2 linked regions of the Homo sapiens genome follow. The protein of the gene in region 1 purifies or fractionates together with the protein of each later gene. This does not show direct contact. Each region holds a gene or a part of one and is shown in the gene's direction. Other genes may lie near its edges.

Region 1 (3,500 bases):
TCAAGATGGGAATTGCAAGAGAGAAATAATTTCATATACATGGAGACAGCTAAATGGGAGACAGGAGTTTTATTATTACTCAAATCAGCCTTCTTGAAAAGTTGGAGGCTAGGGTTTTTCAAGGATAGTTTGGTAGGCAGGGGCTAGGGAATGGGTACTGCTGATTGGTTGGGGATGGAATCACAGGGATATAGAAAAACAGTCCTGGTCCTTGCGTGCTGAGTCTGCTTCTGGGTTGGGGCCACAGAGGAGTGGCTGGTCTGAGAGGGGCCATTGGGTAGTCAGAAGTGCAAAAGCCTGAAAAGACATCTCAAAAGGCCAGTCCTGTGTACTACAATAGTGATGTTATTTACAGGAGTAATTGAGGATGTTGCAAATTTTTGTGCCCTCTGGAATAATAACTGCTAATCATTTAACTGACCTGCATCTTAGCAGAATTCTGGTCCTTCGCATCCTCCTGACCTGGTGTCCTTTCATTAGTTTTACAAAGGCAGTTTAGTTTTGGGATGAGCTATTATCATTTAAATCATAAACTAAATTTCTCCCAAATTTATTAATATCTTGGCCCATGCCCAGGAATGACCAAGGGCAGATTGGAGGTTAAAAACAAGATGGAGTTGGTTAGGTCAGATCTCTTTCACTGTCATCATTTTGTCACTGTTATAATTTTGCAAAGGTGGTTTTGAAATTGTCAATCTCCAGTTAATCCTCATTTAATTCTTCTATATCATTCTTTTTTTTTTTTTTTTTTTTTTGGTAGATGGAGTCTCGCTCTGTTGCCAGGCTGGAGTGTAGTGGCGTGATCTCAGCTCACTGCAACCTCCGCCTCCTGGGTTTAAGCAATTCTCCTGCCTCAGCCTCCTGAGTAGCTGGGACTACAGGCACATGCCACCATGCCCAGCTAATTTTTGTATTTTTAGTAGAGACGGGGTTGCACAGTGTTGGCCAGGATGGTCGATCTCTTGACTTCATGATCCGCCTGCCTCGGCCACCCAAAGTGCTGGGATTACGGGTGTGAGCCACTGCCCCCAGCCAATTCTATATCATTCTAAGGAAGCCAGCATGCCCAGCCAATTCTGTGTCATTCTAAGGTGACAATAGAAACACAGTGCTTTAAGAAAATAAAATGAAACTTGGTCTAGACTAGCTTTTAGAATGGCTTTTTCAGGGCAGAGATCCAGCCTTTCTGATCACCGATTCTCTGTGGATCAGTTTTTGTTAAACAAATGTTAAGCACAATTAAGGTGAGATACAAGAAATAATTCGAGGCGGTGGCATACAGTTATTTTATGAGGCCACATACATTTTATAGGATCCAGTAGTCTAAAATTTACATGTAGAAATTTACCTTGTATTTTCAGCTGCCTGCTGAAGATGAAGTCTTACTACAGAAATTAAGAGAGGAATCAAGAGCTGTCTTTCTACAAAGAAAAAGCAGAGAACTGTTAGATAATGAAGAATTACAGGTAAGAACAAAGCAAAAAGTTGCTTTAGATGTTAACCATTTCTCATTTGTGCTACTTAAATCATGCAGGATTTCTTGGTGCCTAATGGAGTCCGTACTACAGAGTGGTACTACATAGGCTCTGAAGCAGCAGTTCCCACCAGAAGCAGCCGCTGAGTTTGCATGGGTCATGTACCCCAAACATAGTGTTGTTTGTTATTTTTGTTTAAGGCCCTAGGTGATTCTAATGTGCAGCCAAGGTTGAGAACCACTGCTGTAGGGTCAGACTACAGAGGTTCAAATCCCAGCCCTGCTATATGACTTTAGGCAATGGACTTAACATCTCTGTGCTTCGATTATCATCTCTAAAGTAGGGATAGCTAACTATATCATAGAGATGTGGATTAAAGAGGCAGTGTATATCAAAAGCTTAGTAGGCACTCAATAAATGTTATTTTTATTGTTAGTAATCAAAAGGATAATAGGGCATGAGATTCATCTTAATATTGACTCTGCCAACAAACTCTCATTTTAGTGGAAAGCACACATTTAACTACATATTAAAATCTTGTTGTTTTTAACTTACAACATCTTCACTTCCACAATTCTCTTAAGAACTTATGGTTTTTGCTGGACAAACACCAGACACCACCTATGATTGGAGAGGAAGCGATGATCAATTACGAAAACTTTTTGAAGGTTGGTGAAAAGGCTGGAGCAAAGTGCAAGTAAGAATAATATAATTAACAAAAGAATGTGTTATGTTAAGCATTTTAAATGCCTCAAATATTGGCTGGGCACAGTGGCTCACACCTGTAATCCCAGCAGTTTTGGAGGCTGAGGTGAGAGGATTGCTTGAGCTGGGGTGTTTGAGGCCAGCCTGGGCAACTTAGGGAGATCTTGTCTCTACTAAAAAAATTATCTGGGTGTGGGGGCGTACACCTGTAGCTACTCCGGAGGCTGAGGTGGGAGAATTGCTTGAGCCCGGGAGGATGAGCTGTGATTAAGCCACTGCACTCCAGCCTGGGCGATAGAGCAAGACCTTACCTTTAAAAAAAATAAACAAATCCTCAAATATTAAATGAAGTAAATGGAATGACATTTGAGTCCATTTAAGTTACTAATTAAATTTAATAAAATTATTTACAGTCAAAAAATCACATTGGTATGAAGTTATTAAAATAAATAATATAGCCAGGTGTGGTGGCTCATGCCTGTAATCCCAGCACTTTGGGAGGCTGAGGTGAGCGGATCACGAGGTCAAGAGAACAAGACCATCCTGACCAACATGGTGAAACCCCGTCTCTACTAAAAATACAAAAATTAGCTGGGCGTGGTGGCGTGTGCCTGTAATCCCAGCTACTCAGGAGGCTGAGGCAGGAGAATCGCTTGAACCCTGGAGGCGGAGGTTGCAGTGAGCCGAGATCGTGCCACTGCACTCCAGCTTGGCAAAAGAGCAAGACTCCATCTCAAAAAAAAAAAAGAAATAATATAGTTTATGACACTTTCAGCCTTAAGACAGACGAAAGCAAACAAAAAAGAATGCAAGGCCAGGCACTGTGGCTCACGTGCCCATCTCTGCAAAATAAAAAAAACTTTTAATTAAAAAAAAAAAGAATGCAAACATTTATGACTTAGGCTAGGCATGGTGCCTCACGTTTGTAATTCCAGTGCTTTGGGAGGCCAAGGCAGGTGGATCACTTGAGGCCAGGAGTTCGAGATCAGTCAGGGCAACAGAGCAAATCTCTGTTTATATATATATATTTATCTTTTTTTTTGAGATGGAGTCTTGCTCTGTCGCTAGGCTGCAGGGGAGTGGCGCAATCTCAGCTCACTATAACCTCCGCCTCCTGGGTTCAAGTGATTCTCCTGCCTCAGCCTCCCAAGTATTATTGTATTAACAAAAGAATATGTTAAGCATTTTAAATGCCTCAAATATTGGCTGGGCCAATATAAATACAATATAATACAATATAAATACCCAATACAAATACTTTTTGTATTTTTACTAGAGACGGGGTTTCACCATGTTGGCCAAAATGGTCTCGATCTCTTG
Region 2 (3,965 bases), on another chromosome or scaffold:
TTTAAAGTAAGAGATGTGTGACTCTTCCTTTCACTTGAACCCCCACTGTAGGATTGTTAATTGGTCTAATTTCAATATTGTTGTATCACAGGAATAAGGAGGCAAGAAGAGAGGGAGAAAGGCAGGGAGACTGCTGGTCTGTGGAGCAGTTAAAACATCCACAACATTTATGAATTAAGTTTGCCATCTTATATGGGCATGGTTCATGGTGCCCCTAAACAATTATAATAGTAATATAAAGGATAACAGATCAGCATAACATATACAATAATTATGAAAAAGTTTGAAATATTGTGAAAATTACCAAATGTGGTGCAGAGACACATAGTAAGCCTGTGCTGTAGGAAAAATGGCGCAGATAGATTTGGTTCCATGCAGAGTTGCCACAAACCTTACATTTGTAAAAACAGTTACCTGGGAAGCGCAATAAAGGAAAGTGCGAGCCTGTAGCAGATGCACGTTCCATTTAGACATCCTTAGGACTCACACCAGCGAAGGGCCCCAGCTTTTCCATACCAGTAGCTGTAATTCTGAGACGAAAGTGCTTTTCCCCCACCTTTACACCTTGCTTTCTGGAAAGATAAGACCATAATGGATTTTGAACTTGCTTTTATCATTAAAGCCCAGTGTCTTACATTTCTCCGGAAAAGGAAGCAGTGTTTGCTATGGAACAAATAGTAGAATTTTAATACATAGTCCCCTGACCGTAGAAACTGAACCTCAGGTCCTATCCTGGCTCTAGGCCACCCGGTCATGGAAGAAGAAACTTTTCTTAGAATCTTTATCTCTTGAGACAAGCTTGGAAATTACAACATATATGTACCATGAACGCGAAGTACCTGAGCTCAAAGCAGTTGAGCAATCTTAAGTGGGGGTGCCCGAAAGTGGTGCGTTCTGACCCCAAACGTCACACTACCCGTCCCTGGAGGAGCGGGTTGCAGCCCAGCTGCGTCGCCCCGCGCAGAGCTCCAGGCAGAAGAAAACTACATTTCCCAGAGACCTCTGCGCGGTCGGGAGCACCGCGAGGAGGGGCGAGATGGGGGCGGGCCTCTGTGTGAAGGCCCTTCCCATTGGTGCGCATTCCAAAGGGCCATGTAAACTTCTTCGCGATTGCACGGATTCAGGGACGCTCAGTGGCGCCGCGCCGCTCCTTGGTTTGACTTTTGTTTTTCAGTTGCGTTCCCTGACTCGGAGTCTTAGTGTGTCGTGAGTATAGAGTTTCGGGTTTGGGGTGAAGGGGTTAGGTAAGAAGCCTTGGGAAGAAAATCTGGTTAGGGAGAAGTAACTGCGGAAGCAGTGCGGAGGAGAGGACGTGAGCCTGAATGTGGTGTCCGTGGAGGGGCTGGGGACCGGAGGAGGAAAGCTCCAATGTGCAAAGGGAGAGACCTCAGGAGTGCTGGAGCGTTGGGACCTGGAGCAGTGAGGCGGTCGAGAATGGGATGAAGTGGGAAAAGGAGTACGGGATTCGGGCGCCCTGGAGATGCGTTCCGGTGTACTCTAACCCCACGCTGGTCTAGCTCTCAGTTTCCTCATTTGTGAAATAAGGGATAGTGAAAATACTGAACGGTTGTTGGGATAATAAATTGTACAGATTTGTCACGTGGCTAAAAGAAAAAAATTCAAAGTGCTACACAAATGTTAATTGTTAGTAGACAAGCTATAAGAATATATCTAAGCAAGGGTATTGGAGATAGGTGCAGAGACCCTAGCTGAAACCCGTTAATTTACCTATAAACAAAGGCATTGTTCCTTTGGAAGAGGCAATGAAGAGTAAGACGCGATTTCTGTCTGTAGGGAGCGCACGCTAGCATGGGAGAAACGATAGCAATAAAGCACTCTAATATGTTGACTTGTAGATAATTTCAAAGGCAGTTCTTTTGCACTTAGATCATTTTTGCTAAATCATTTTGGATGGGGAGACTCAGGAAAGAGAAAAAGGAGGTGGTATTTAAGATGAGTTTTCATGTACAGACTAGATTTTGTTAAGTGAAATTATGAGGGTTGTGGAGGGAGTTGTGTTCCAGCTAGAGGGAAGCTCATGAACAAAGGTATGGAGGCAGGAAAGTTATCTGGAAACGGTACATTTAGGAGAGTAGAGAGAAATAAGGCAGGAAAGTTAGGTTTGGCCCTTATGTAGAAAGCCATGAATTCTAGGCTAACAAATTGGATTTAATGCTTTAGGCTATGAGGTGCTACTGATGTATTTTATTAAAGAAAATGGTCCAGGAGACGCAAGGAGTAGGTAGAACCGTTAAGGTGTTGTAATGGTGTGGGTAAGAAGTATTGAGACTCTGAATTAACATGGTCATTGTGGAGATAAAATATACAAGATATTCATATGGTTAGACAGGAGGTTCAGAAGAATGAGTGATCAAATGATGAATTTAAGTTGCCAACTCCCGGTTGCTTGGAAACGCTGAATTAGTAACTAAAATAGGAAAGTCAGAAGGGGCATGTTTGGATAAAAAGATGATGTGTTAGGTTTAGGAAATGTTAGCTTTGAGATGCTAAAAAAATACCTAACTTGAGTGATTTCTTTTTTAAGTTAAACGTTTCAAGTGCCAGTGGGACTATGGGTGAAAATGTCCACTACATTTTTGTTAATTCAAATCAAGAGGTTGAAAGAGATGTCGTTTATTTATTCAACATGTAATTGTTACTTACTGTATGCCATGTAGTGTTTTAGATGACAGAGTTAATAATAAAAACAGGAGGAATAATGATGTTCCCAAAGAAATGGTTAGAGGAAATGATAAAGAAACTTGAAGACAGAACCTCTGAGCCAAGGGAGTAAAATTGTCAATAATAATAATAGTCCACATTTACTGAGTGCTTATATATGTGTCAAACACTGTCCCTCGGCCTTATATCCGTACACCAACCTATGACATAGAAGTAACTGAAATTTAGAGAGGATAACTTGCCTGAGGTACACAGCTAATAAGAGGCAGGGCTTTGACTCAAACCCAAGTCTGATATCAGAGCCCACATTCTCAACTACAAAGCAATATTTATTTTTATTATTATTTTTTCCAGGTAAGGTCTCACTCTGTCACCTAGGCTGGAGAGCAGTGGGGCAATCTCAGCTCAGTGCAGCCTCTGCCTCCCAAGCTCAAGCAATCCTCTGCCTCAGCCTCCTGAATAGCTGGGACTACAGGCACGTGCCACCACTCCCAGCTAATTCTGTAATTTTTGTAGAGACAGGGTTTCACCATGTTGCCCAGGCTGGTCTCAAACTCCTGACCTCCAGCAGTCCATTCACCTTGGCCTCCCAAAGTGCTGGCATTACAGGCATGAGCCACTGTGCCCAGCCTATTTTAATTGTTTTTTGAGACAGGGTCTTGCGCTGTTGTCCAGGCTAGAGTGCAGTGGCACGATCACTGCTCGCTGCAGCCTTGAACCCTCAGGCTGAAGTGATCCTCGCACCAAGCAGGTGGGACTACATTGCCACTGTGCCCAGCTAATTTTTAAAATTTTGGTAAAGACAGGGTCTTGCCATGGCCTGGCCATGCCAAGGTCCGGTCCCAAAGTGATATATTTTTAAAGGGTAGTTGGCACTACCAGGCACAGTGGCTCACGCCTGTAATCCCAACACTGGCAGGCAGAGGTGGGTGGATCATCTGAGGTCAGGAGTTCGAGACCAGCCTGGCCAACATGGCGAAACCCTGTCTTTACTAAAAATACAAAAAAAATTAGCCACAGTGGCAGGTGCCTGTAATCCCAGCCACTGGGGAGGCTGAGGCAGGAGAATCACTTGAACCCAGGAGGTGGAGGTTGCAGTGAGCCAAGATCGTGCCACTGCACTCCAGCCTGGGCTGAACAGAGTGAGACTCTGTCTCAAAAAATAAATAAATAAATAGGTAGTTGGCACTATCTAATTAAGAATACAAGTGAAGGAGTAACTATTGGATGGAGGAGGATAGAAACAGAAAAGAGCAATTGAATTTATTAATTTGGATGTCTGC

The links. The genes of interacting proteins can lie anywhere in the genome.
Region 2: the proteins of PPP2R3C (region 1) and CCDC77 purify together in Homo sapiens (affinity purification with mass spectrometry; one large-scale study listed by BioGRID and IntAct). This does not show direct contact.

What each region holds. Positions count from the first base shown.
Region 1 is NC_000014.9:35,108,491-35,111,990, reverse strand, and holds part of PPP2R3C (serine/threonine-protein phosphatase 2A regulatory subunit B'' subunit gamma), read left to right. Parts: intron 1-1,348; exon of another isoform or gene 1,349-1,361; coding exon 1,362-1,466; intron 1,467-2,059; coding exon 2,060-2,172; intron 2,173-3,500. UniProt on the Homo sapiens protein: May regulate MCM3AP phosphorylation through phosphatase recruitment. May act as a negative regulator of ABCB1 expression and function through the dephosphorylation of ABCB1 by TFPI2/PPP2R3C complex.
Region 2 is NC_000012.12:400,479-404,443, forward strand, and holds the start of CCDC77 (coiled-coil domain-containing protein 77), read left to right. Parts: upstream 1-1,165; 5' UTR 1,166-1,206; intron 1,207-3,965.